Linked DNA regions of Homo sapiens: region 2 is reported to be linked to region 1. The links are microRNA targets in miRTarBase. Many come from high-throughput screens and were not tested one by one. Region 1 holds a microRNA gene; the other region holds the end of a gene's coding sequence.

Region 1 (17,168 bases):
TTGATGTCCACGCCCGTGGCCTCCCGCACCTGCCTGGGGCAGAGTGGCCCAGTCACCCCAGCCCTGCCTAAGCCCTGGGACAGGCTGAAGCTCCCAGGTGTGGGGTGGGTACAGGGCAGCATGTGGGAACAGGGCAGGCGCTCAGCCCACGGGAGAGAATGTTCTCAGCCTGATGGGGCTGCCTCTTCAGGAAGAGCTGAGTGCCCCATCCCCAGGAGCATACAAGTAGGTGTGGCCACAGCTGACCTCAAGGACTAGGTAGGAGGGAGGAGGAATTCCAACTAGTCACTACAGCCCATGTTGATGGACCTAAAATACCATCACTGGGTGTTTTCCCTGCCCAGCAGCACCGGCTGGGTTTTAAAAGTTTACTGGGGGCCGGGCGTGGTGGCTCATGCCTGTAATCCCAGCACTGTGGGAGGCTGAGGCAGGCAGATCACCTGAGGTCAGGAGTTTTGAGACCACCCTGGCCAATATGGCAAAACCCTGACTCTACTAAAAATATAAAAATTAGCCGGGCATGGTAGCAGGCGCCTGTAGTCCCAGCTACTTGGGAGGCTGAGACAGGAGAATCGCTTGAACCCAGGAGGCAGAGGTTGTGGTGAACCGAGATACGCTCTGGGCAACACAGCGAGACTCCATCTCAAATAAATAAATAAATAAATAAAGTTTACTGGCGTCTACAGAGGGGGTCCAGGAACCACCCAAAACCTAGCATAGACAAGGAACACAGGGGCCCAGACCATGGGCACCTTCTATGCCCCCCCAATCCCTGGGAAGCAGGGGCCCTGGGAGTTGTTAGCACCACTGAGCACAGGAGCAGAGCCCCACGGGAGAGCTTCCTTGGGGCACAGGGGACGCCCAAGACAGGAACAGAGCCTGAGTCCCCATGACAAGCGGCACCACGTGTCCACCAACAAGGCTGGGCACTGACCAAGCCTTCCAGGGTCGGAACCAGAGGTGCACGAGGGCCTGTACAACCTCCGCCTGTTACAGGGCAGGGGCCAGCCTGAGGTCACACAGGCAGTGGTGCAGGCCAGGCCCCTCCAGCTCTGCCCAGGCTTCTTTCTGGCAACACCAGCCACCTATGGCAGGACTTCAGGAGAAGGACAGGCTGGAACACGGCCTGATATCCAGGACGGGCAGCCCCACCGGGCCCTGCTCTGCCCCACACTGGTCAGCCTGGCTGGGCCTGCCTGGCCCTCTCCCCATACAGCCCTCTCGGCAAATTCCTCCCACAGACCCCAGCTGCTCAGAGCCACAGGGGACCTAGAGGGGAGCGGGGGGTCTCCCCGCAGCCTCAGGACCAAGCCTGACTCCAGGATCTTCACTGGGGAGCAGGAAGCAGATGGAGCCTTGGAGTCGACCCCTGGGTCGGAAAGGTCCCCCGGCTGCCTACCCTGAAGCCTCCTGCTGTTGCTAAGACCCCATCCTTGAGGGGAGCGGAGCCCACCGCCCTGACCTCACATCACCCAGCTCTGAGCTCCGGAGATGCTTTCTGGGACTCAGAGTCACAGGCAGCACCACAGGGAGGGACGCAAACAGATGAAGTCTGAATCCTCCAGCAGGCTGGGTGGTCCAGGCAAGCTGCTTTCACCCCCAACCCCCCGAGCCTCAGTTTCCCCATCTGTGACATGAGAATGACACATCCCCTACCATGCCCAGGAGGGTCCGCCACAGGGCAGGACCCAGGGCCTGGGCCCGCCCAGGACCTACTTGATGGCCTGGCACATGTCCAGCCCCATCTTCACGCAGTTCCGGGCGTGGGTAGGCAGCGACACGGGCAGGCCCGATACACAGTAGTAGCAGTCGCCGAGGATCTTGATTCGCATGCACTCGTTGGCCTGCAGGGTGAGGGAAGGGCCTGGTCACTGGAAGATGTGGGGCTGGGACCTCTCACGACAGCCGCCTCCCCCCACCCTCCAGGGTGCACCCGGCTCTCTCCTGGCTGGGGGCTTGCCTCCTGGGGTCCAGTCACCAGGAGCCACTTCTGGGCCTGGCAAAAGGCTTAGCGACATGGGGGCCTCCCCAGGAGGAACCCCCAGGCAAGCACCAGAGGTGAACACGAGTGTTCCTAAGGGCCTCGGGGAGGGGTCTGCCTTGGTTTCATTTGCCCAGGTAATGTTTGAGTGCCTACTGAGTACCCGGCCCCAGGCCAGGCAAGGGGACACAGCAGTGAACAAAATAGATGCAAATCTCTGCAGCCACGGAGCTTGCACGTAGGCAGGAGGGGTGGGCACTAAACTAGAAAGACAAAAACAAAACAGTGTGCCCAGCTGTGATGGGGGCTAAGGAGAAAACCAAGGCACAGGAGGGAAGTGATGTTCCCAGGAGGCCAGCGAAGACCTCTCAGAGTTGGAATCAGAAACATTTGAGCTAAGACCCCGAGGAACCGAGAGAGCCGGCCATGCCAGTCTCTGCAGGAAGAGTACTCAAGGACTCACAGGAGCCCTGGGGCCACAAAGCTGGGGAAGAGACTGCGAGGTAGCCAGGAGGCTGCAGGAGTGGGGGGTGAGGACAGAGGTCACAGGTGTACACACCAAGGGATCAGCAGGTTTCAAGGTCACCCAAGCAGTGGCTGTGCTGACAGGGCTTAGGGGTGGGGAGGAAAGATATCAATGCAGAGAGGAAAGAGGGAATGGGGAGGGCAGAGTAGGAGAGCGGCGAGGGTGGGGACTCATAGGAAAAGGCCCAGGGAGAGAAGGGGACCCCCGAGAGCCCTCTGAGGTTCATCTGAGGCACTGCTGCGTCACCAGACCCTCCTTAAGCCCTCAGCAAGGGTGGCCACATGCACCGAGGCCTCATGGGTGGGGCTTTAGGGGAGCTGAAGAAGGAGCGCCATCTGCCTCTGCTCTCCCCTCCCCACCCTCTACCCCACTCAGCTGACCCTCGGACTGGACGCCCCAGCAGGTGGCCCTGTGCTCTGGCTTCTGGCCAGGAGGGAGCTAAGAGGGCTCTGTCCTGCAGGCTCACGAGGGCTAGGCCTGCTCCTGGAACACCATCTGTCTCCAGGACTCGAGCCTATCCTGTCCTCGTCCCTACTCTGTGCCCATCAGCCATCACAGACCCAGGCCCCAGACACAGCACCAGCCCTGCCTCCAGGTCCCCTGCACCTGCCCAGCCTGGGAACCATCCCTGGCCTGTGCCCTCCGCCAATTACTCAGTTTCAGCGTGTGCCAGATGTTTCCTGCTGGGCCCCATCTGGCACATGCTGAGTGAGTTCTGAGTGACTGCAAGGACAAGAGGACAGTGGCTTTCCTAGAAAGCAGGCAATCTTGGCAGACCTGGATACTAGGCTCCAGCTACCCTGATCTCCTCTCGGACCAGGCACAGGACTGCCCATGGACCCAGCCCAGCTCTCGGGGATGTAGGAGAGGCCACATTCCCCCGGCTGCTCCACCGGCTGACAGTCCCCTGTGTCTCTGACACTTGGAGTTGGGGAGCTGGGTCTTGTGCGGAGGTGTGACTTGTATGCCTCTGAGAGAGGAGGCCCTGGCTCTTGGAAAGAGCTTACACTTCTGGAATCTGATTGTTGATAGGAGAAAAGGCTGGGACCAGCCCTGCCCAACTCTGCCCAGAGATTAGATGCTCTGACTGGGAAGCTGGCACCTGCCATGGCCTCCCTTTCCCCATCTGTGCAATAGGGCCACGCCTCCTGGGCCTGCTGGAGAGGGAAGACTGTGTCCAAGGGCAAGGGACCCTCTGTGTGGGCTTTATGGTAAGGAAAGGGCCAGCTGTGGCCCGAGCCCAGGGCCCCTGCCTCACATGAGGCCCAACCTCTGGGGCTCCCAGCTGCTGGTTCAGAAGCCATGCAGATCCTGAAGGAAGGTTCCAGGCTAGACAGGCCCTCTGAGTCACTCAGTCCACAATCCCCAGGATGGGACAGTTTTCCAGAGCATCCCTGACCAGTGCAATCCTGTAGAAGCTTGGTTACCCCCTGCAACAGGGAGCCCACTTCCAGTCCCTCCTGGGATTGAGTAGCTCTGATCATGAAAAATTCTTCCCAGTGTGAAGTCATAACTTGCCTCCCATCAAGTTCTAGACCATTGATTCTCTGCCCACAGAGACACCTGCGGGGCTCTTACAAATTCTGGCCAGGCGCAGTGGCTCACACCTGTAATCCCAGCACTTTGAGAGGTCGAGGCAGGCGGATCACAAGGTCAGGAAATCAAGACCATCCTGGCTAACATGGTGAAACCCCGTCTCTACTAAAAATACAAAAAATTAGCCAGGCGTGGTGGCAGGCGCCTGTAGTCCCAGCTACTCAGGAGGGTGAGGCAGAATGGTGTGAACCCGGGAGGCGGAGCTTGCAGTGAGCAGAGATCACACCACTGCACTCCAGCCTGGGCAACAGAGCAAGACTCCGTCTCAAAAAAAAAAAAAAAATTCTGATGGGGCAGGGCATGATGGTGCATGCCTGTAATCCTAGCACTTTGGGAGGCTGAGGTGGGTGGATCACTTGAGCGTAGGAATTCAAGACCAGCCTAGACAATGTAGCAAAACCCCATCTCCACAAAATACAAAAAAATTAGCCTGGGGTTGTGGTGCACACCTGTAGTCACAGCTGCTCGGGAGGCTGAAGTGGGAGGACGCCTGAGCCCAGGCAGGTTGAGGCTGCTGTGAGCCATGATTATGCCATTGCACTTCACGCTAGGTGACAGAGCAAGACTCTGTCTCAAAAACAAAACAAAACAGAACTCTGATGGGTGTGGACATGGGCACTGGTGTTTTATTTAAGCTTTCCATGTGATTTGCATGTACAGCCAGGATAGGGAGCCACCACCTTAAATCTTACACTTCAGTCTCTATTTAATGGCCACCACTTCCAGGAAGCCTGCCCTGATCACCTGAGGCTGGGCTAGGTGCTCCCCAGGCTTCCTGGCCCCCACACTTCTCTTCTTCAAAGCACATACCATGTAGGCCCAAGGCCCCACCCAGACTCAGGGCCTGGCACTTACCCTCTCTCAGGACCATTTGGTCCATTAATGGAAATGTTGCTTGCCTTACCCCCTCCCTGCCTGGCACGTGTCGAGCTCCTCAGCATCCTGGTCCTCGCCTCAGCCCTCATGTCCTTGCATGTCAGACCTTGTGCCCTTGTCCCCCTCACACCTCACACGCACACTGAGCACGTTCACCCCATGGACACACGGGGCTTTCTTTCTACTCCAGGCTTTGTCTATGCTGTTCCCCCTGCTAAGAACACTGTTCCCTTTCCTCCTCAGATATTTTTTCAAGTATCTCAGACTTTAAGGTGGGCCAGGAGTGGTGGCCCACGGCTGTAATCCCAGCACTTGGGAGGCCAAGAGGGGATGATCACTTGAGGTCAGGAGTTCGAGACCAGCCTGGCCTACATGGCGAAACCCCATTGCTACAAAAAAAAAAAAAAAAAAAAAAAAAAAAAATTAGCCAGGCGTGGTGGTGCATGCCTGTAGTCCCAGCTACTCAGGAGGCTGAGGCATGAGAATCACTTGAGCCTGGCAGGTCGAGGCTGCAGTGAGCAGTGATGGCACCACTGCACTCCAGCCTTCATGACAGAATGAGACTCCATCTCACAAAAACAAACAAACAAAACGTAAAAGTTTAATGTGCACATGATTCACCTCAGATCCTGTGAAAAGCAGCTTCTGGGTGAGGCTGGGCATTCCACAGTCCTCCTGAGCTACCAGGTGAGTGGAGGCTGCTAGCCTTGCCAGTGAGGATGGAGCCATCTCCTCCTCCTGAGCCCCCATCTGAGCTCCAGAGCCCCAGTATATCGCCCAGTGTGCACTGTCAGTCTCCCCACTGGCCTGTCACTCTGGGGGCACAGGATCCTGGCTGCCGTGGCCACCACTCACCCCCACCTTTACCATGGGGCGCTTGTGTTTGCTGGCTGGATGCTAAAATTCAGCCACGCCTCCCCATCCCAATTCCAGCAGGGCACTGAACACAGGACACCCCTGGGGTGTAATAGGCAGGGGAGGGGCCTGGCTTTGCCCATTGTAGGCCAGCGGGCTCACCTTGGCGATCTGGTCGAACTTGCCAAAGAGCTCATTCAGCACCACCACCAGCTCCTTGGGAGAACAGTCGCTGGCCAGCTGCGTGAAGCCCACGATGTCCGCATAGAGGATGCTGGGGATGGGGCAGGGTGGGAGGGAGTGTCAGAGCCAGGCTCCTAGACAGCAGCAGCAGGAGCACGCAGGACTGTCTGGAGCCCCAGGAGCCTGCCAGGCCTGAGCCCATTCACCCCCGTCCTTCCTCAGCCTCCATAGGGATGGGAGAGTCGCGCCCAGCCATAGAGACAGATTAAAGTTCCAGGGGCTTCACGTTAAAGCAGAAGGGAGCAAAATTCAGAGCCTACAGGAGCCCTCGGCCCCACCCCAGGCCCTATCACTGCAGACAGCCGAAGGGCACTCCTGCAGGCAGCCCGGAGCCTTCCCCTTTCCCATCCAATGTTCACCACAGCACAGACTTCAGAACTCCCTGGTGAGAGGCAGCTCCATGCTCCCTCAAGCCAACCTCCACACCCAGCACTTTACAGGCATCGAGTCCTCACACAGCCCTTGCCGAACTCCCGTTCTACAGATGCACAAACTGAGGCTCCAGGACATTGAGACTTGCTGGGAAGCCAAGAGCTGGCATCTGCACCAGTTCTCCCTGCTCCAAAGTCCTTAAGCTCATGGACCATCCACAGCCCAGAGAAAAGGCAGCGGGCCAGCCTTGGATGTAATGCTGGCGCTGCAGGCAGAGGACCCAGGGGGTCTCCTGGGACCCACATCTACACTCAACGGCACCCAGCACCCACATCGACACTTGACAAACTCAGGTCAGTGCATTCAAGTAAAATTTTGTGGTTCCCTGCAAATCAGCCAAAGACAGGTGTCAGAACCGGGGCACTCTTGGGCACCAAGGCCGGGGGGCTTTACCTCATTCTGGGGGTCCTGTGCTCCCTTGAGAACCATCTGAAAGGACCCCTTCCTTCACAAAAGCTATGTTTGCTCACACAGTTTTACAGTTTTGGGGGTGTGCTAGATCTTTCAATACCAATCTAAATTCTCTAATTTAAGAGCCCTGATCTGATCCTGCCCACAAGTGGGGGTTCTGAGACCCAGGGAGGGCCCCAGATTGACCTGGAACCATGGGGCCCTCTCCCAATCCCTATATGGGCAGGGGTCTGAGCCTCCAGATAGGGCGGGGAGGCCGCCTGGGGGCCGGTGGAACGGTGGGCCCAGTCCCCGGGATATGCTAATCACACGTCTCACCGCCCACCTGACATTCTGGTGCCTCTTGACGTAGAGGCTGTGGAAGTTGTTGTCAGGCATGCAGCGACGGTCACCATGCTCCTTGAGCCGTTCGATGATGGCCAGCTTCATGCCCATGGAGATGTGGGCCGGAAGCACTGACAGCAGCAGGTTCTCCTGGGTGTGGGTGGGCAGACCAGCAGAGGGACCAGCAAAGCGACCGGCGGAGGGACCAGCGGGGGACAGGCAGGGTAGCATCAGGTCCCAGACCTGGCCTCCTTGGCCCCCATCCTCCCTGCCTGCCTGCCCTGCCCACAATGTCCCCATCTCTGCTCTTGTCCTCCACCAACCCAACTGAGCATCTACCTCCCATGTACCCAGCAGCCCCCGGGACTCAGGGTGACTGAGAAAGGGCTCTTTCAGCTGGGGAGGCTAAGCTGATGGGTGAGCAGCCTGGAGCCACTACGGCCTTCTCTGCCGCCACCTGGGGACTGCGTGCCCAGGACTGAAACCACACAGAGGAAGGCAGAGTCAAGGGTCAGCAGGCTATGGTTACCCTGCTGGAGCCCAGGACTCACCGAGGTGAGACCTGCATGGGTGTCTGGCCATGCACCTCATGCACATGGCAGCATGAGTGTCTCATGTCCAACAGAAAGAGGAAGAGGACAGGGGTGTACAGGGTGAGGAGTGGGGGCCGGGTCCCACCTGCTGGCGCTTCTCGATGCGCAGCTTCCGGCGGATCTGGATGCACTTCACAGTGTAGGTGAAGAGGTCCCGGGATGCATCCTGCATTTGGTGCTTGTGGAAGGCGCCTGTCAGGTTCCCACACAGGAAGATGACTGCGTTGGCCAGCAGCTGCGGGTAGACAGGGGTTTGGCTCATTATGTGGCCTGGCCCATGCCCTCCCGAGGCACCAGACCCCTAGGCGGACTAGTGATGGCACCTCTTCCCATTCCCTGACCTTCAACCCACTGAGAATGGCACTCTTCCTGGGGCAGACAGGGAAACTGAGGCCCAGACAGGAGCTAGTCTCCTAGTGAGTCACTAGGACTGCAAGACCAGGACACCCAGGGAGGCAGAAGAGACCACCTCACAGAGCCCAGGGCCCGAGGGGCATGCGTGCTAAGGGCAGTCCCAGAGGGCACAGCGCCCAGCTGGCTGTGTGGAGGGCCAGCCTCTGCCTGGAGAGGACACCAGGCCTGGTCAGAGGGAAAACACTTCTCTAAACACCCAATAATTATGAACAGAAGATTCACTCATTCAACACAAAGACACAAGGCAGTGCCCTGGGGTACTCCCCCAAGCCCCGCCAGGACAGGGCCTTCGAGGGGAAACTTCGGCAATGGGACTCACCCCACGACAGTGTCCCTGAACCGGGAGGCAAGGCCTGAGGTCACGACCCTGAGGGCTGAGCCACAGGGGAGCCCTAGGCCAGCAAAGCAAAGGCCAGAGGGCAGGGCCACGCCTGGAGCCCAGCTTCCGAGCAGACGTGGAGAGGGCCCGGCCTTGGAGCGGGCTGTCTGCAAACACGGCTCCGGGGCCTTCGGGTCTGATTCACCCAGAGGGGGCCCCCCCATCTGCCCTTAGACCCAGACCACAAAACCTCCCCCAGAGGCCTTAGCCCATCCCTCACCTGCAGCCCCACCCGGACACTGGGTGTCGTGAAGCCTCCCATCAAAGAACCGAGCACCAGGAGGTGGGAGGCAGTGGAGACGGCCCCAACGGCGACAGCGCCCCGCATGCTGAAGGGCAGTAGTGTGTACACCACGAAGACAATGAACAGGAAGAAGGGCACCTGTGGATGCAGCCTGGTGAGCCCGGTGCCCCAAGATGCTGCCCCAGGCCGTACAGCCCCCGGAACCCTGCACCACAGCAGCCCACCCAGTGCGTATCCTTAGGTTGGCTCCCTCGCCACCCCCTGCGTGGGCAGACATACAAGGGAACAAGAAAAGCCATAATGTGTTTCTAGGGTGGGCCCGGCCACAAGGTTCATGGTTTCCTGTGCTGATCCACTGCCTGTGGCCACCCTAGGTGGGAGGCTCCATGCCCCGCGTGATCCAGGGAGCCCCCACCTGGTGCCCCTGCCACGTGGTTCTCGCTCAGCAGAAATGATTACCGGGAGGCTGAGGCACCCTCTCACCAGCTGCCTCCAGCAATGCGGCCCCACCCGCCCTCCCTCCACCCCCAGAGCTGCCCCACCATCCCCACCGGCTGGTCCTGCGTCCACCCCTCTGGGAGTGCTGCCCTCTCCCTCCCCTTCAGTCCACATGGTTTCCTTGGGCCTCACCCCACCCTGCCCCAGCCACAGGAGCTGTCATAGGACCCAGGCCCACTGGTCAGAGTGTGCTACCGCTTGGTGACAGCCTCTCTGGGACTGGGCCCATGACCACAGCCAGGCCAGTGTGGCTCAAGCCTGCAGGTCGAGCTGGTTGAGAAAGGGCCCTCTCTCTCAACTGGGGTGGGCAGCCTGGAGCCGCTGTGAACTTCTCTGCCCCCACCTGGGGACAGCGTGCCCGGGGCCGAAGCTGTCCAGAGGCCCCAGTTCCAGTTACCCACTGGAGCCCAGCACTGACCCCTTGGCCTTTCCTGACACAGGAACCAGTTTGTGCCTTTTTGCCTCTTTGAGCTGAAGTTCTGTCATCTCCAACCAAACTGGAGCCACCCAAAAGTGCTGCAGCCCAGCGTCCGAGTGGATGCTCTCCCCACCTCAGCCCTGTCAATGCAGAGAACTCACAGGGACAAAACCAGCCTGGGGCCATCCTAGACACACAGCCAAGCGTGGGGCACGAAGGGCCTGTGGCATGCCCACCAACCACGGGGATGGGAGCTGCTGAAGGCGCAGCTGGCAGGGAGTCCAGAGTTCCTGTTACCTGCTCCCACGCACAGGCCGCCTTTGTCCATGCGTCGAACACCAGCACATAGCCCAGCGCCACCAAGCAGGCCCAGGTGAGCAGCGCCAAGGCCCTGAGCCAGCGCCGCAGGAGACACTCGACGTACATCAGCACAGAGAGGGCCGCAAACACCGCCAGCACCAGGAACGCCATGCCCAGAATGGCCTGGTGTCTGGAGGGGTCCTGGGTGGAGCAAACAGACAGGAATGCCTCGGCTTTCCCCAGTGCAGAGCCACCTCCTCCAGAAAGCCTGCCGGGCCGGCTGCCTCACTTACAGCTTCCTCCACGTGAAGGGTGTGGATGCACCCTCCCACACCTGGTTCCCACTCACCTTCTGGCCTTTGTCACCTCTGCCAAGGCTGCCTCAACCACCCCCTTCCCATCATCTCGGGAACCAGAGCATCACCCACAGCCCCGCCCATGATGCCATCACTCTCCATCTGCCTCTGCCTCCTCTCTGGGTTCCCACGGTGCTCTGTGCACAGCCGCAGGTGATACCACAAGCACAGGGCAGGACTCATTCACAGGCAGAGCCTTGTAAAGCCGCCCAAAGAGGACACTGCGCCTGGCCCTCAGTGAGTGAGCAGAGGCTGGTGAGGGATACCAGGAAAAGTCATCCCACAGGGGAGGAGCTGAGGCAATGGCACAGAGGTGGGACAGGACGGGCACAGCATCCGGGAGGTCCGTGGGGGCAGAGGCCTGATCTGGGGGCTGGCACACAGTAGCAAGCATCCTGTGGTTGGTAGCCACATGGATCCAGGCTGCACTGGCAGCTGCTAGGTCCTGGCCACTTCACTCACATAAACACCCTGGAGTTTCTGAGTGTTCTTCTAGAACTCAGCTAATCAAATTTACATTCACTAAAAAGAAAATGGGCTGGGCATGGTGGCTCACGCCTATAATCCCAGCACTTTGGGAGGCCGAGGCAGGTGGATCAGCTGAGGTCAGGAATTTGAGACCAGCCTGGCCAACATGGTGAAACCCTGTCTTTACTAAAAATACAAAAATTAGCCAGGCGTGGTGGCATGGGCCTGTAATCCCAGCTACTCGGGAGGCTGAGGCAGGAGAATCACTTGAACCTAGGAGGTGGAGGCTGCAGCGAGCCAAGTTGGTGCCATTGCACTCCAGCCTGGGCAATAAGAGCAAAACTCTTTTTTTTGAAAAATGCAGTTCCTCAGTCACATTACCCACTTTTTAAATGCTCAATAGCTAAACACAGCTAGTGGCTGTACCAAGGCAAGTGCCTGGGCCGGAAATGACATAGGTGGTGCCAGCCTGGAGAGCTGTGTTAAAAAGGATTCTGAGGCCGGGCACAGTGGTTCACACCTGTAATCCCAACACTTTGGGAGGCCAAGGCAGGAGGATTACTTGAGGCCAGGAGTTCAAGACCAGCCTGGGCAACATAGCGAGGCCATGTCTCTACAAAAACAAACAAACAAAAAAAAAACAAAAGGAGGATTCTGAGAATGTAGACAGGCTCAGTGTGGAATGTAGGGATTGATTAATGATGTCTGCATGGGTACAGGAAGTGAGGGCAGTGATACACAGGCCATCCCTGACCCAGGTCTTCAGTAGAATCGAATTTCATCATGGAGAAAAATGAGAGTAGTTTATCTGGACAAGTTAATGTAATGTCTGAAACCACTCCAGACTTCAAAACTGAATTAAAGTTAGAGAGGCTGGGCATGGTCGTGCATGCTTGTACTCCCAGCTACTCAGGAGGATAAGCCAGGATGATTACTTGAACCCAGGAGTTCAAGGCCAACCTGGGCAACAAAACAAGGCCCAGTCTCAAAAAAAATTTTTTTAAATTAGAAACTTGTCTTCTACCAGTCTAAATGTGCTGTAAAAGACAGAGCATTGGCCGGGCATGGTGGCTCACGTCTATAATCCCAGCACTTTGGGGGGCCGAAGCAGGTGGATCACCTGAGGTTGGGAGTTCGAGACCAGCCTGGCCAACATGGTGAAAGCCCATCTCTACTAAAAATACAAAAATTAGCTGGGCATGGTGGCATGCACCTGTCATCCTAGCTACTCGGAAGGCTGAGGCAGGAGAATTGCTTGAGCCCAGGAGATGGAGGTTGCAGTGAGCCGAGATCATGCCACTGTACTCCAGCCTGGGTGACAGAGTGAGACTCTGTCTCAAAAAAACCCAAAAACAAAACAAAACAAACAAAAAAGCATAGCATTTTACAGAAGATAAGCATTTTACAGAAGAGGCTAAGAGAAGATAGCAGCTTGGCCAAGGTTGGGGCCGAGACGTGAAGCCCAGGGGCTGCCCTCACTCACCCCCTGGCTGAAGGCAATGATGATGAGGGCCACGCAGGCAGTGGCGGCCACCAGCAGGAGCGTGAGCAGCAGCGGCCCATGCTGGCTGGTGAGCTGGTACTTCTCGTAGAGCGCATCTTGGTCAGGGCCCTCCTCGCCCTCGTTGAGGAAGTAGCGCCCCTTGGCTGGCATCCTCCACCCTTGGCACGCGTGTCGTTAAGGGGCCGTTAAGGAGGCCCCAGGGCCTGGAGGGCATCTGTCTGCCAACACCCTCCCCCGTGGGCCTAGGCCTCTGTCCTCTCCGAGGCAGGCAAGCAGGGCTGGGGAGAGGGCCTCTGGGCCTGCTGCTCCATGGCCAACAAGGGGTCCGCACAGCTCTGGCACCAGGCCTCACTCACTGTGCCGCCAGCATCCTCCTGTGCATCCAGACTGGGCTGACTCCACACGCAGTTCCTCAGCTCTGCGGAGACGAAGCAGACAGGAACTTGACCTAATGGTCCAAGTCAGGGGAGGGCTAGCATCAGGGAGAGCGGGGCCCAGGCCTCACAGCACCAAGTCTGATTTATCCATCTTAACCCTAACCTAACTTTTATGTCCTGTTGTCGTAAAGCTAGTCCCCTGTGTCTTCTAGGACTGCACTGTCCAAGATAGTAGCCACTAGCCACATGTGGCTGCTTTTTTTTTTTTTTTTCAAGACAGGGCCTCACTCTGTTGCCCAGGCTGGAGTGCAGTGGCACGATCATAGCTCACTGCAGCCTCAAACTCCCGGGCTCAAGTGATTCTCCCACCTCAGCCTCCTACGTAGCTGGGACTACAGGTGTGCAGCTAATTTTTAAATTCTCTTTTGTAGAGATGGGCGTCTCCCCCTGCTGCCCAGGGTGGTTTTGAACTCGTGGGCTCAAGCAATCCTCCTGCCTCAGCCTCCCAAAGTGCTGGGATAACAGGCATGAGCCACCATGCCCAGCCACTATTTTAAATTAAATTTAAATTAATTTAAAATAAAATTAGAAATTCAGTCCCTCAGTCACACTAGCCACATTTCAAATACTCAACAGCCAGCCAGGCATGGTGGCTCATGCCTGTAATCCCAGCACTTTGAGAGGTCGAGGCAGGCAGATCACCTGAGGTCAGGAGTTCGAGACCAGCCTGGCCCACGTGGTAAAACCCCCCTCCACTAAAAATACAAAAATTAGCCGGACATGGTGACGTGTGCCTGTAATCCCAGCTACTCGGGAAGCTGAGGCAGGAGAATGGCTTGAACCTGGGAGGCAAATTTTGCAGTAAGCTGAGATCGTGCCATTGCATCCAGCCTGGGCAACAGAGTGAGACTCCATCTCAAAAAAAAAAAAAAATCAAATACCCAATGGCTACATGCAGCTGCTGTACTGGACAGCACAGATAAACAGAGAATGTCTATCATCACAGAAGCTTCTACAGGCCAGCTCTGCTCTGCATGTTTCACTGTTTTGCTTTCACACAAAGGTCTCTGATCCATTTCGATTCACTCTGGGTATGGTGTGAGGTAGGGATCAAGGTTCACTTCTTTTTTCCATATGGATATTGAATTATCCCAGCAGTGTTCAGTGAACCGGCCATCCTCTCTCTGAATTTCAGTGGAGCCACCTCTGTCATAAGTCAGGTGATCACACACAGATGGTGTCTGTTTCCAGGCTCTGCTCTGTCCCCATGGTCCTGGTGCAATCACCACATTCACTTCATTTTCCAGTGAGTCTCATGCCTCCAGGCACAGAGGGTTCCAAGCTGTGATCCTAGGAGCCCTGAGATTTGGGGACATGCATCAGGCCCCCAATGGGAAGGGAAGGTGGGGGGGCATAGGCTCAGGCCCCCATGCCTGCTTCAGCCAGGGTAGCCCCCTGCATCTGTGTTACAGTAAGCTCCACATAAAACTGCATTTTCTTTCTCTCTTTTTTTTTTTTTTTTTGAGATGGGGTCTCACTCTGTCACCCAGGCTGGAGTGAAGTGGTGTGATCATAGCCCGCTGCAGCCTCAACCTCCCAGGGCTCAGGCAATCCTCCCACCTCAGACTCCTGCGTAGCTGGGACCTCAGCTATGCAGGAGGCTAAGGTGGGAGAATTACCTGAGCCTGGGGAGACTTAGGCTGCAGTAGGCCATGTATTTTTTGTAGAGATGGGGTTTTGCCATGTTGCCCAGGCTAGTCTTGAACTCCTAAGCTCAAGCAATCTACCCTCCTCAGCCTCCGAAGTGTTAAGCTTTCAGGCACTGTACCCAGCAAAAATCTTGTTTATTTTTTTAAATAGCCCACTGATACAAATTTCAGATGTCTGCAAGCCGTGCTTCACAGAAAAGGGAGCTGAGTCTCAGAGAGGGACACAGTGGCCCCTTTGTGACAACACTGTGAGCTGACCCCACACTTGCCATGCTCAGCCCATATGGGTTCCTTCTTTCCCCAGCACCATTCATTCCTTAGCATATTCATTGATTCCAAAAAGGCTTGTGAATCACACCTACGCCTGCCAGCCCTTATATCTCCTGTGTGCTAGTCTGGGCTCTCTCTCCCCAGGGATCCCCATCAGTCTCCAAAGGTAGGAAAATTACCAAAATTGTGCAATCCCTCACACAGCAATGGGGACTTGGGGACAGCTGCCATATTCCCAGCAGGAACCTTGCATGAAGGGGGCAACCCTGGACCAAGAGTCCACGCCCCCAGTGTCCTCCAGGCCTGCCTCAGATTGGAACCAGGACAGGGCCAGAGGCAGAGGGCAGGGAGGCTGTGAGACACGGGACAGCTCAGAGCAGTCACAGGGCACAAATGGCCAGCCGCCAGCAGAAGCTTCAAAGGACAGCTGGTCCAGCGGAGGGAAGATGGCCAGGTGAGCCCCCAGCCCCCAAAGGCAAAAAGCAGGATATCCAGGGTCCCCAAGTCCCCAACCAGCACCTGCTAGTATGAGATCCCTGGGGCCACCTCAATTCCAGGAGCCACCTCAGGCTCTATTTCCTCTGGAAGTTCCTATTCCATCACCACACACCAGGAACAAAATGGTAAAACCACATATTTGGGGAAGGAGGAAGGGGTCATTTGCTGGGGGCCCCATCCCCTTCAGTGCCTGGGCAGGTGTCTACAGGCCTTGGCACCTGTTCAACGAGGGGCAACCCTTCAGGGATGTGGCCAAGAGCTGTCAAAGTGCCCAAAGTGCTCAGACAGGCTACAAATCTGATTTCTACGTGAAATGATGATTTTTAAATGTTGGCAGCTGATTTCAAATTTTTCAATATTTGCAGCCCACTAGTTTACAACCTCTAAATCTAAACTAATCAGTCTGTATTCCACAAGAGGCATTTACTGTGTGCTAACCATATACATCCAACCCTGTGCTGTGGGGGTTGCCAAACAAGATAAGGTCCCTGCCTGAGATACATTCAATTCAGCACCCCCCACCCCAAAATAGCCCTTTGCAGTAATAACAGCAGCAGTTCCTGTCACCCCCGGCACCTGCACACACATTCACTCTCATCTTCACAACCGGCAAAGGCCAAGGTGGCACCACCGTCTCACAGATGCAGAACTGAGCCCAGAGAGGCAGAGTGGTTGCCTAAGATCACACTGCTGGAGCTGGTGGACAGATAGGCTGGGATGCAAACCCAGGTCTGCCAGCTCCCAAACCAGGGCTCCTCAGCCCAGGCTTGCCCACTGACATCCCGGGGGACTGAGCCAGATGCCACAGCACACAAACAGCAAACCCACCTGACCCCTGGCCTGCTGCCAAACACCAGTGCACCAGGACAGCCAGGCTGAGAAGCTCCAAACACCAGAGGGCTGAGGCCACTCCCCACAACTGCTCCATCTCCCAGGCAAAGCCCCCAGACCAGAGCTGAGGCGGCCAGACACGTGCATGAAAGTGCAAGTGTGAGAGTGTGTGGACACACCCGCTCCAGGCACACAAAGCCAGGCTGGGCCACCACGAGGAAAGGGAGGAACCAGCTGAGAGAGTCCCAAGGGCCCGTGGGAACACAGGCCTGGTAAACACGCCTCTCAAGGAACTCATTAGGCCACTTTCTGGGCAACGGCAGGCAGGCGCAGGTGGACAGTGGACAACATGGGCACAAGGACTTCAGCCCATCCAGGGACCTTGGCCAGCTCCTGGAACAAGCCGGGCACCGTGAGGCCTGGGGGGAATGAACTCACTGATCACATCTCCAGAGGGGGCCCAGGAACCCACCACCAGTGGCATGTCCCCAGGCCAGCTCCTCCCTAGGAGCCACCCCGCCAAAGCCAGACCCAGAGGCACCCCCTGCCCGGGAAGTTTTCAAGGCCTCCTGTCCAATCACCAGTTCTTCCACCAGCCCTCGACTCAGTTGGCAACAGGGAGGGCCTCCCCACAAGGCCCTGGATAAAGGAATCCTTCTGCCATGTCTGAGACACATCCAATCCAGGGCTCCCGGATTGAATGACCCTGCTGTTAGCTTGCACACCTCCATGACGGGGGGGCTCACCACCTCTCAGGGCAGTCTCCTCCATCACTGGGCACTTTTTCTGGCCCTGAGTCCTCCCTTAGCTCAAGGCAAGCCCTGCCTCCCTGTCACTCCCTCACCCACACCGCATGGGTCCTGTCTGAACTCCAAAGCCACCAAGAGCAGAGGTATCACGTCCCCTCTTCCTGAGGAGACTGCAGTCCCAGGGGGTCCCTTACTTACTCTCACCTCACGACCACCCCAGTGGTAGAGCAGGGTGAGCAGCCCCATTTTAAAGAAGAGGGGACTCCCCTGTGGGGAAGGTGTCCACATGGGAGGAGGGTATTTCATGCTTCTGCTG
Region 2 (10,115 bases), not on the chromosome of region 1:
AAAGTTGTATCTTTGAGGCAGAGCTGCCCTTCAGTGAGTCACAAGCACTCTGGCACACCCAAGACCTGGGCCAAGCCACAGTGTCAACTTCCATACACCTGGAAACACCTCTCCTCACCGCCCTGTCCTCCTGTATCTTAGGTGCCTACATGCAGCCAGGAGCACGGGAGAACATTGCCTATCTCACCCACACGGAGCGGAGGAAGGACTTCCAGTACGAGGCCATGCAGGAGAGGCGGGAGGCTGAGAACATGGCTCAGAGGGGCATTGGCGTGGCCGCTAGCTCTGTGCCCATGAACTTTAAGGACCTCATTGAGACCAAGGCTGAGGAGCACAACATTGTCTTCATGCCCGTCATTGGGAAGCGACACGAAGGGAAGCAGCTCTACACCTTTGGCCGCATTGTGATCTACATCGACCGGGGAGTGGTCTTTGTCCAGGGCGAGAAGACGTGGGTGCCCACCTCACTGCAGAGCCTGATCGACATGGCCAAGTGAACTGTGGCAGGTCCAGAACCAGTCAGAGACTTGCCCCTAAGAGGGATGTACTGTAAATAAACAGTATTTTTAGATCACCTTCAAAAGGGTAACTTCTTTACTCAGGAGCTACTCCACATCAGGCCAGGTCATGAGGGAAGGATGTAAAATGGGACAATGCCACGTAGGGCAGGAATCTTTATACCAAGTCCTCATGTGGGGTATCGTCCTCAAAACAGGACAGCCAAGTTGATGTTCTTTCCTGGCAAAGGAGTTCTCTGTAGTTCCTCCATAGCAGCCTTCCCTTTAGTCTCTGGTGGCAGCTTCTACCTCAGCCAACACTGAGTACCTCACAACGAGTTCAGTCAGTAGCAGAAGGATCTTCTCTCTTGTTCCTGATGATTTCAAGGTCCTCACAGTCCTGATAATCTGGTTCTTCCCGAAACTCCCAAATATCTATGGAGAGCTGTTCTAGCTTTTGCACAGGGAACCAGTGGACAGAGGTATCATTAAATATGTCCATGTATTGTGAAGTCTGAGGAAACTCAAGCTCCTCCAGTCCTTTTAAAATCTGAGCAGAAAAATTCAAGTATAAAAACTTCAGATAGTCACAGTAATCCCCACTCTTCTGGGATAAATTTCCACTTTACTTGTCATCCCCACTTTACTTTTTAAAAAAATAACAAATAGGGTATTTTGATTTAAATGCTTTTGCACAATGAATTGGGCGCCCCAAGGACAGTGGATATCATGGACTGTGATACTAAGAATAAAGGAAATAAGGAAAAAACTAAGAGATGCATTAAAGAGTCATAGCTTTCTGGAACACAGACCCATGGAGAGAGCTGACAGTACACTAGCGCCACTTAGCCCATGAGTTTCCTCCTACGCCTGTAAAGAAAGATAGAATTCTTCACAGTTTCACACCCTTTTCCATCCCAGCCCCTTTATTCAGATAGATACCTTTGCAATGTAGGGATAATTTTTCTGCAGAATCCTTGCCAACAACCTAGAAATTAAAAAAAACCAAAAAAACAAAAAAAAAACACCATGATTAGGAGGTATGAGGATAGTTTCATTCAACTTTTAAGACACATAGAAGGGCAAGATGATTGAAGCATAGTAAGAATTCAGGAAAAAACTCAAGATGTGGAGTAAACCAGTTAAATAGTTGAAAATGTGGGCCAGGCGCAGGTAATCCCAGCACTTCAGGAGACTGAGGCGGGCGGATCATTTGAGGTCAGGAGTTCAAGACCAGCATGGCCAACATGGTAAAACCCCATCTCTACTAAAAATAAAAAAATCAGCCGGGCGTCCTGGTGTGCATCTGTAATCCCAGCTACTCATTAGGCTGAGGTAGGAGTATCGCTTGAACCCAGGAGACAGAGGTTGCAGTGAGCTGAGATCATACCACTGCACTCCAGCCGGGGGGACAGAGTGAGACTCCATCTCAAAAAAAAAAAAAAAAAAAAAAGCAAATATTCCAGTAATTGTGCCCATTTCATCAAGAGAAATGACTGAGCAGACTCCTAAGCACGTGAAACAGAATGAGGACGTGGAGCTGTAGGCAGAGGAATCAAATAGCTTTTCCCTGTTTTCAAAACCATTTCTGTGTATCATAATGGAAGGGAGGAATTCGTGGCAAAAAGACTCCTTAACTTGCTTCATAGTTCGAATCAGGATTTGACATCTGTCTTTAAGCCTTCATCCAGTTCCCTGTGGAAAAGCATTTCCCCAGTATGGAATCGTCAAGGAAATGTTTTCTGCATGTGGGTCAATCTGAGGTATGGGCTTCACCTCAGGGCCTGACAGAATCTCAGCATTCTCAGACTTACCTCTCCTCAAGTCCTTTGAAACTGTTCCCAATGATGACCATCTTAGAAAGGGCATCTACTGACCAGTTACTCCATAAAAGATTGTTGTACAAGGCCGTCCCACAATGGAGCATGTAAAAGATGGTAGGCTCCCCGCGAATACTCCGTTTCCCTTCCTGGGGATACGATATTCACAGGTGTAAACATGCCCACAACCTATTCTTTACAGCAAGGTGAGGGAGAGGTAAGGATGGGGATAATCATGAGACAAACTAAAGGATCAAAAGGAAAAAAGCTCATTTTGTGGAACAGTTACACTCGTATATGAAATCTATAGTTACAGGACTAAAGAGTCAGGAAATCATGATGTCCCGAAAGAACTCATGTTTACTTAACAAATGTACACATTGTGTTCTCATGAACACAAAGCCCTGCACTGATGGAGGGGCTTCCTGGGTCTATGACGGCAAGAACAGGAGGGATAGTGATGTTACTTACCCCATGTATTTCCCCTGTGTTCAGTAATCCACACTTCCTATGTCACTTCCTGCAGATCTGCATAACTAAGTCCTCTTCCAATGTCCCTGAGGCACAATCACCCCTCCTGAGAACCACTGCTCTCTGGCCAAACTCCAGCAGGGAACATAAGGCCCTTTGTCTGACCCTTGCCCACCTCTGGCCTGCCTCTCCTCTCCTTGCAGCTTCCCTTGTGTTAATAACAAACTGGCAGTGGTTTCCTGAACAGCCAGCACTGCACAGCTACCTTCAATCCTGGTTCTGTCCCACTAGCAAACTCCTGGTAGACCTTCAAAGCCCAGCTCAGACCCAGGAATCCTTCCTCCATCCCTCCGAACACCTGTCGTAGTACAAGGTTCTGCCTCAGTATTTCATTCCTCATTCACTTGTTGACCATGGGCTCCCTGAACACAGGGACTGGCTCCCATTTTTCTTGGTCTCCCCAAAGCTCCCTGCCTAGCACAGAACAGGCACCCAGAAAGATGATCTGAACTGAGTGACAGTGTTTTAGGACCTTGCCAATATCAGGGAATGACTCTTCTCTCAACTGAGCCAAATTTTCATACATAATAAGCAATAAGATGGCAGTTTCAGCACACACACAGGAATCAAAAGATTCTAATCCCCAAGACAATACAAAACCGAAATCGGAGGGATTTGCTCATACTGGCTTTGGCCCTGTGCTTTAGGGATGCATTTCTTTATTCCACAGGTCTCAGAAATGTCAAATCCCAGCTATTTTGGGGGGTGCAAACATGGGCAGAGAATTAATCCACAACTCACAGCCAGGTGCTATGGGTTTGACTGGGTTATAGCATCAAAGAGGAATGCTGCATCCCCTTTTATTACCTCCCTGGGACAGGATAAAATCCAACCACAAAGACCTCACTTGAGGCACCTAGACTTTTATGTTTCAGTAGCAACAGCAAATACCAAGTTAGCATAATTTCCAGACAAATAATTCTCAAAAAAGTGGTGCAGACCTAACATGTTCTGGTTCATGCTATCTGTGTAATTTTTTTCTGATGGGCACAACACAAGCCAAAATGTAGGTAACTGATTGGCTGGTTACATCGTTCAGGCACTACAAAAGTGAGCAGGCGGTAAGAGAGGAATGGCTGCCACTGCAAAGAATGCTGGTGTCCACAGGCAGGGCCTGGGGTGAGTCTGGTCAGGATTTTTACAGTTCTGTCTGCTCCCCTTTAAACCACTTACCTCGTTCTCACTGAGAACAGTCACACCAAGGGTGTTAAGGACTTCAATTTCAAGTTGGCTAAACAGAGGGTCATATACCCAACAGTGACTTCTGGGAATCTAGAAGGGAAGAATGAGTTGTTTACTTCAACCCAAACATCTGTGTGCACCCATGTATAGGACCAGAGGAGGAGGAGATGAAAATGAATCCAAAAATGTACCTGGCACTTTTCCAACAAAAGCAGCAAAAACGTTAGCTGGTTTCTAGCTACGATGCAGGTGGCAAAGTTCCCAATGCCGTAACACACACACTTCAAATGGCAGGTTCCTGTGACCAAGATCTCTCTTGGGATAGAATCAGTGGCCACATCTGACTCCTCTGGCAATGAGTCAAGATGCAGGTTTCCAAAGATGTCTGAAAGAGTCCCCACAGGGGCCTTCAGTTGTTCCAGATGTTTTGTGAGACATCTATTGATGGTTTCTGAAAGAGCAGGCCCCCAAATGCAGTTAGAGGGCATGTTCTGACCCTGTGAACCAAATCATCCACAAAAGAAGTTCACATATTTGGGGAGAAAGAGATCAGGGCAGTAAAAGGTTTCAATTCTTCAGAGAGAGAGAGAAGCTGCCAGCCTCATTCCCAAACATGCCTGGACATACAGTCACATTCACCACCAATTGACAAACTGTCCCGGCCCCTGGACTCCCAAAACCCAAGAGCATGTTGCAAGCAGAAATTGGGTTTCACTCAAGGGCAGTTTCCATCTAAAACTCTAATGTGAACTCATTCTAATTTAACAAGACCCTCCTAGTAAATGTAGACTATGCTCTGAAATGCGTACTTTTAAAGTTGTAACAAACCAGGTGCTCACGCCTGTAATCCTAGCACTTTGGGAGGCCTAGGTGAGTGGATCGCCTGAGGTCAGGAATTCAAGACCAGCCTGGCCAACATGGCAAAACCCCATCTCTACTAAAAATACAAAAAATTAGTCAGGCGTACTGGCGCACAGCTGTAGTCCCAGCTACTTGGGAGGCTGAAGCAGAAGAATCACTTGAACCAGGGAGGTGGAGGTTGCAGTTAGCCGAGATCACACCGCTGCATTCCAGCCTGGGCAACAGAGCAAGACTCCATCTCAAAAAAATAAAATAAAGTTATACTCTGTTTAAGTCTTCTCATGTAGAGGTAGGTTCTCTTGTCTCTCCTTTTATTGTACTGGTACTGAATTTAGCAAAACAAAAAAAGCCGTGCATTCCAATAAGATACCAACTTTTCACTTAAGATACCAGCAAAGGGCCAGGCATGGTGGCTCACACCTGTAATCCCAGTACCTTGGGAGACCGAGGTGGGCAGATCACTTGAGGTCAGGAGTTCGAGACCAGTCTGGCCAACATGGTGAAACCCCATCTCTACAAAAATACAAAAATTAGCCAGGGGTAGTGGCACACACCTGTAGTCCCAGCTACTCAGGAGACTGAGGCAGGAGGATTGTTTGAACCCAGGAGGTGGAAATTGCAGTGAGCAGAGATCACACCCCTACACTCCAGCCTGGGTGACACAGTGAGACTCCGTCTCAAAAGAAAAAAAAAAAAAAAAAAAAGCAGCAAAGACATCTTTAAACAAGACCCCAAGCCAGGAAAAACTGGCTCTTCAGGTCAATTTTGATAAAAGAATTGGTGAAAATTTTCTGGATAACTTGACAATAGATATCAAGTTGGTCACCGCCTTTCATTTAATTCTACTTCTGGGAATATATCCTAAGAAGATCATCCTAAGTTTGGTAAAAGCTTTATGCATAAAGTTACTCATTGCAAAATTATGTATAATAACTTAAAAAGGCTGGTTGTGGTGGCTCATGCCTATAATCCCAGCGCTTTGGGAAGCTGTAGGTGGGAGGATCACTTGAGCTCAGGAGGTACAGGTTGCAGTGAACTATGATTGCATCATTGTACTCCAGCCTAGGCGAAGAGTAAGACACTGTCCTAAAATAATAACTGAAAAACAACAGAAGAAAACTAAATGTCCCACAATAAAAATGATACCTATGGTATGTCCACTCCATGCATAAATATTATGTCGCCACCCACACACTATGTTTAGGAAGAGATTATCACTGCACGAGGAAAAGGCTACATTGTAATATCATGGAAAAGGAACAGGATAAATATAAATTTCAGCAATAATAATGACAACATTTATTGCCTTGTATACAGCAGGCAAGCATTTAACTAAACAGCTTCAATTCTCAAAACTATAGGATATACACATTATCTCCATTTCACAGATAAAGAAACTGAGGATCAGAATTAAGTGCCAAAAGACATACAGCTGTAAGGGGCGGGCGGCGTTAGAACCCAGCAAGTTATCCCTCTGTGAAGCAAAATGTCCTCAAATGAGGACTGATTCTCTTTTCTGCCCCACAATCCCTACCATTGGCCAAGTGGTACCCACCTAGTGCTGAACTCCAGAAATCAGAGATAAACAGGTCCTTCCTGTTGAGAAAAAAAATGGCACAGTCATGTCCCACCCATCTCAGGGCTGCCCCAACAGTAACTTTCCTGATCATGACCTGAATGCTTACAGAATGAGGTGCCCTGCAATGCAGGGCCCACCCTTACCAAGTGATAGGAGGGGGATATATGTTGAATATGTCCAGAGCCAGAGCACATACTGCTGGGGCTCAGAGACTGCAGGAGAGAGTATGCTGGAGGAGGTCCTTGATTCCCAGAGAGAGATCTGGGTCTATTCTCAGTCTACAACAGAGCCTAGCATAGAATTGCAGCTCAATAAATGGTTGTTAAGTGCTCAGAATTAGCCTTTCTGAGCTTTAGTTTCCTCATCTCTAAAATGGGGATAAAAATCATTCCCAACACGGAGGAGTTTAGAGGCATAAAATGGGTTAACATTCTTAGCCCAGTGTCTGGCACATAGCAGGTACTCAACAAATGGTATTTGTTATTATAAATAGTTTTAAGGGGAAAGTAAAGAGACAAAACCAAGTGTCTGGGCTTTCTTTATTCAAGTCAACTGGTTTTACAGACCCAGAGCAAAAGAAAGTCAACAGTGAATTAAAATGAACTGGATTTAAACTGACAAGCCACAGCCAGAGACAGTGATTATGGGGTTCAGAAAGGAGTACAGAGAATTGAAAGTCGGCCCAGAGGCTGCTGCACGTTTCTCACAGAGGGTAGAGAGTTCTGATGTACACAGGAATGCTTTATGAACTGGTAAATGCGTACACAGATATGCGTGTAAAATGCTGGCTCAATCTCTACTCAGAGCGATGGTGATTGCACCACACTTGGGTGTTGGGAGAAGCAAGGAGCTCCTGGGGAATACTGAAGCAGTTGAGGAGATCGTGACAGTGTCAAGGGATATGAAAAATGCCTTGAGTTTTCCAAACCCCTAGGCACATTCACTCTCACTGGCATCCTCTGAGAGCTTAAAAATAATCGCAGGTGCTTTTTATTCAGGCTGAGCCAAATGGTCAGCAACTTTCTCTTCAGAGGTAAACTCTGGGACATTACTGCCTCTTGACCCTAATTCTAGGGGAGAGGAGCACACAAAATTAATCTAATTTCTCCCCTTGTGACGGCCCTTCGGATGCTGATCTTAAGTGCTAACTAAAGCTGTTATTTATTGAGCCTAAACAAAACTGCGAATAAAGATAATAATACTAAATAACAATAATAAGTAACATTTATTGAGTGTTTCCTCTGTATTAGGCACTCTCTATGTACTTTCTAAGGTACAGAGCAAGGTATGTGAGAATCTGGGCTGGGATAAGCAACAAGCATAATGGAAAGCTGGAAGCACTGGTTTTTGTCACAAAGACCTGGGTTTGAAATCTGGTTCCACACATTTTCTTTGTCTCTTTGAGAATCAGTGAGCTACCAGGGTCCTAGTATGCCTGCAATGTTTAACATAAAGTGTGTAGAATGATTAAGCTAATGTCAGGCACATAGCAGCTGCCTGATGATAGCAGTCACGTGTTCATGTTGCTTCCCTCGTGTCACCACCACCAATAATATCAACATCGGCATAATATTAATAGCAAACACTGGCACAGTGCTTACCACGTGCCAGAAAATGGTTTCCGTTTACTAATTCATTGAATCCTCAAAACAAACCTACGTATGTACTATTTTCATCCCCATCTCACAGATGAGAAAACTGAGGCACAGAGATTATAAATTGTCCAAGGTCACGCAGCTGTAACCGTAATAAAAGGAAAGACGACCTTTAACTGAGCGCTTACTATAATCCACATCTTTAATGAGCTCGTTACCTACGTTAACTCTTCACAATAACTCCTTAAAGGGTGTGCATTATATCTCCACTCTACAGATGGGGAGACTGTGGCTCAGAATTGCCCATGGGCGCAAAGATTCCATCAGGGCCGAGCCTGCACTCACTCAGCCTCCCAGATGCGACGAAGCACGACTCCGCTGTCAGACTCGAACTCCGCCTCGGGGCCCCGGGGCGCCGCCTCTCTCCCCCGGGGCGCCGCCTCTCTCCCCCGGGGCGCCGCCTCCCTCCGCCGCGGCCGTCGAGCCGCGGAGCGCCTCTTCCGCGGAGCCGCCGCCTGCCAGGATTCCAGCGCCGCAGCTGCGGCCGCAGCCATTGGTCTCTGACGTCAGCGGCGTGCGGCGCACTCGGCACGTCATCGCCGCGCGCCGGCTTGCCAGGAGCTGGAGGGGGAGGTAGGCGGGGCGGCGCGTGACCTAAGGCCTCTCTGCCGCGCGCGCAGGTACGGGGCAGAAGTCGCAGGTACCCAGCTGCTGCCCACATTTCTGGTCCAGAGTCCCGAACCCCGAGCACTGGGATGCCTGGCTACTCCGGTGGGTGGGCGGCGCTCGGAGCGCGGGGATACCGAGGGGCGGGCCCCCAGCTTAGAGCGTGACCCGACCCCGCCTAATCCTTAGGCGTTCGCCCACCATTTCCCAGTCCCGTAGAGCTGGGGCCAGACACCGCACAGCCCTAGTGCTGTTACCAGTCGCTGCCTGCGCCCCGGGGGCTGCGCCCAGCAGCTTCCTGGCCCTTTTCCAGCCATTAGCGTCCGTTTTCCAGCCCTGCTGCCCCACTGAGGCCCCTTCCCACAGCAGTATCACCAGCCCCAGCCCCGCGTTGTTACTATTACTTCCCAGGCTACCAGATCCTTTTCTGCTCATGTTCCGACGTCTCTTCCTACTCCAGGGCCATTATTGGTCTCTTCTGGACCTTTCAGAGATAAGAGAGGACCTCGGTAGTGTAGGGCCCAGTCCTCTGGGAACAAGGGATGGGGAGTTTTAGGCTGCTGTCCTTGGTTCCAGTAACAGAGATACCCCCTCCACAGGCACCCAAATATGCTCCATAGAATACAATGAGTGTGGTCCTGTGGAGGCCCAATCCAAAATATCTAGAGCTGAGAAGAGATAGAGATTTTACAGGCCGTCAAATATTCAATGGGGGTCGTCTCTAGAGACTTTTAACAAACTGTATTGTGTACCCACAGATTGCAGAATGGTGAGCAAACATTTGAGACCATGTTGCTAAAGCATTAAGCTTGGAGAAAGTGACAGTAAGAATTAGACAATAGTTTTGAAGTGACCAAGAGGTTGTCACATGGAAGAATTAGACCTTGTTTTGTGTTTTCCTGCAGAGCGTTATCCAGACTAGCGAGTGGGAGGCAGATGTAAAATCTGGAACGCAGATTTTAGTTTGTTGGAAGGAGAAATGTAACATAGTGAACCACGCATCTCTGGAGGGTGTAAAGCAGAGACAGCCAAGGTAATTTTTGGAAAAGAGTGCAGGAGAGTAGAGTAAACGATGCCAGGGTTCCTTCCGACTCTGAAATTCCGTGATACACTGAGCTGTCTTTCTCTTGTGGAAGTTTGAAAGCCATTTGATAAAGTTCTCTTCATTTTTTAGAAATTTGCCCTGCTCTGGAATTCTGCATGTTCAGGTTACTTTTGGACTGTCAAGATGACAGTTCCTTAATTTGGGTTCCATTATTACCACAGCAACTGGTTTATTTGTATAGCTGTCCACACCTAGAGCATTTTCACCCTGTCATTTGATTTTATCTTCCGTGAAGCTTGTGGTGTGTTTCCCTTAACTGTTCGAGAAACTAAAGCCCTT

What was found. The annotated mature microRNA hsa-miR-6771-5p reads CUCGGGAGGGCAUGGGCCAGGC and lies in region 1 at 8,106-8,127, opposite strand. An mRNA with a match to its seed (bases 2 to 7 or 8) in the 3' UTR can be bound and repressed. Matches are read on the target gene's strand: a 7mer-m8 pairs with bases 2 to 8, a 7mer-A1 pairs with bases 2 to 7 and ends in A, and an 8mer does both.
Region 2: the mRNA of TFIP11 is a reported target of hsa-miR-6771-5p. Seed matches in the 3' UTR shown: 7mer-A1 at 914-920.

The regions. Positions count from the first base shown.
Region 1 is chr16:50,283,580-50,300,747 of GRCh38, reverse strand. MIR6771 (microRNA 6771) reads right to left here and starts at 8,132; the gene lies at 8,073-8,132. It overlaps ADCY7 (adenylate cyclase 7), which reads right to left. Exons shown (of 26, transcript NM_001114.5): 2 at 12,398-12,836; 3 at 10,088-10,291; 4 at 8,851-9,012; 5 at 7,923-8,072; 6 at 7,246-7,394; 7 at 5,997-6,108; 8 at 1,717-1,844; 9 at 1-33. The coding sequence starts at 12,568. RefSeq lists an enhancer at 16,313-16,814.
Region 2 is chr22:26,482,395-26,492,509 of GRCh38, reverse strand. TFIP11 (tuftelin interacting protein 11) reads left to right here. Exons shown (of 15, transcript NM_012143.4): 15 at 142-1,270. The coding sequence ends at 497. SRRD (SRR1 domain containing) reads right to left here and starts at 8,633. Exons shown (of 7, transcript NM_001013694.3): 1 at 8,411-8,633; 2 at 6,447-6,487; 3 at 4,222-4,481; 4 at 4,022-4,120; 5 at 2,312-2,466; 6 at 1,440-1,485; 7 at 1-1,047. The coding sequence starts at 8,619. The coding sequence ends at 838. HPS4 (HPS4 biogenesis of lysosomal organelles complex 3 subunit 2) reads left to right here and starts at 8,727. Exons shown (of 14, transcript NM_022081.6): 1 at 8,727-8,836. RefSeq lists a silencer at 8,450-8,539 and an enhancer at 8,560-8,679.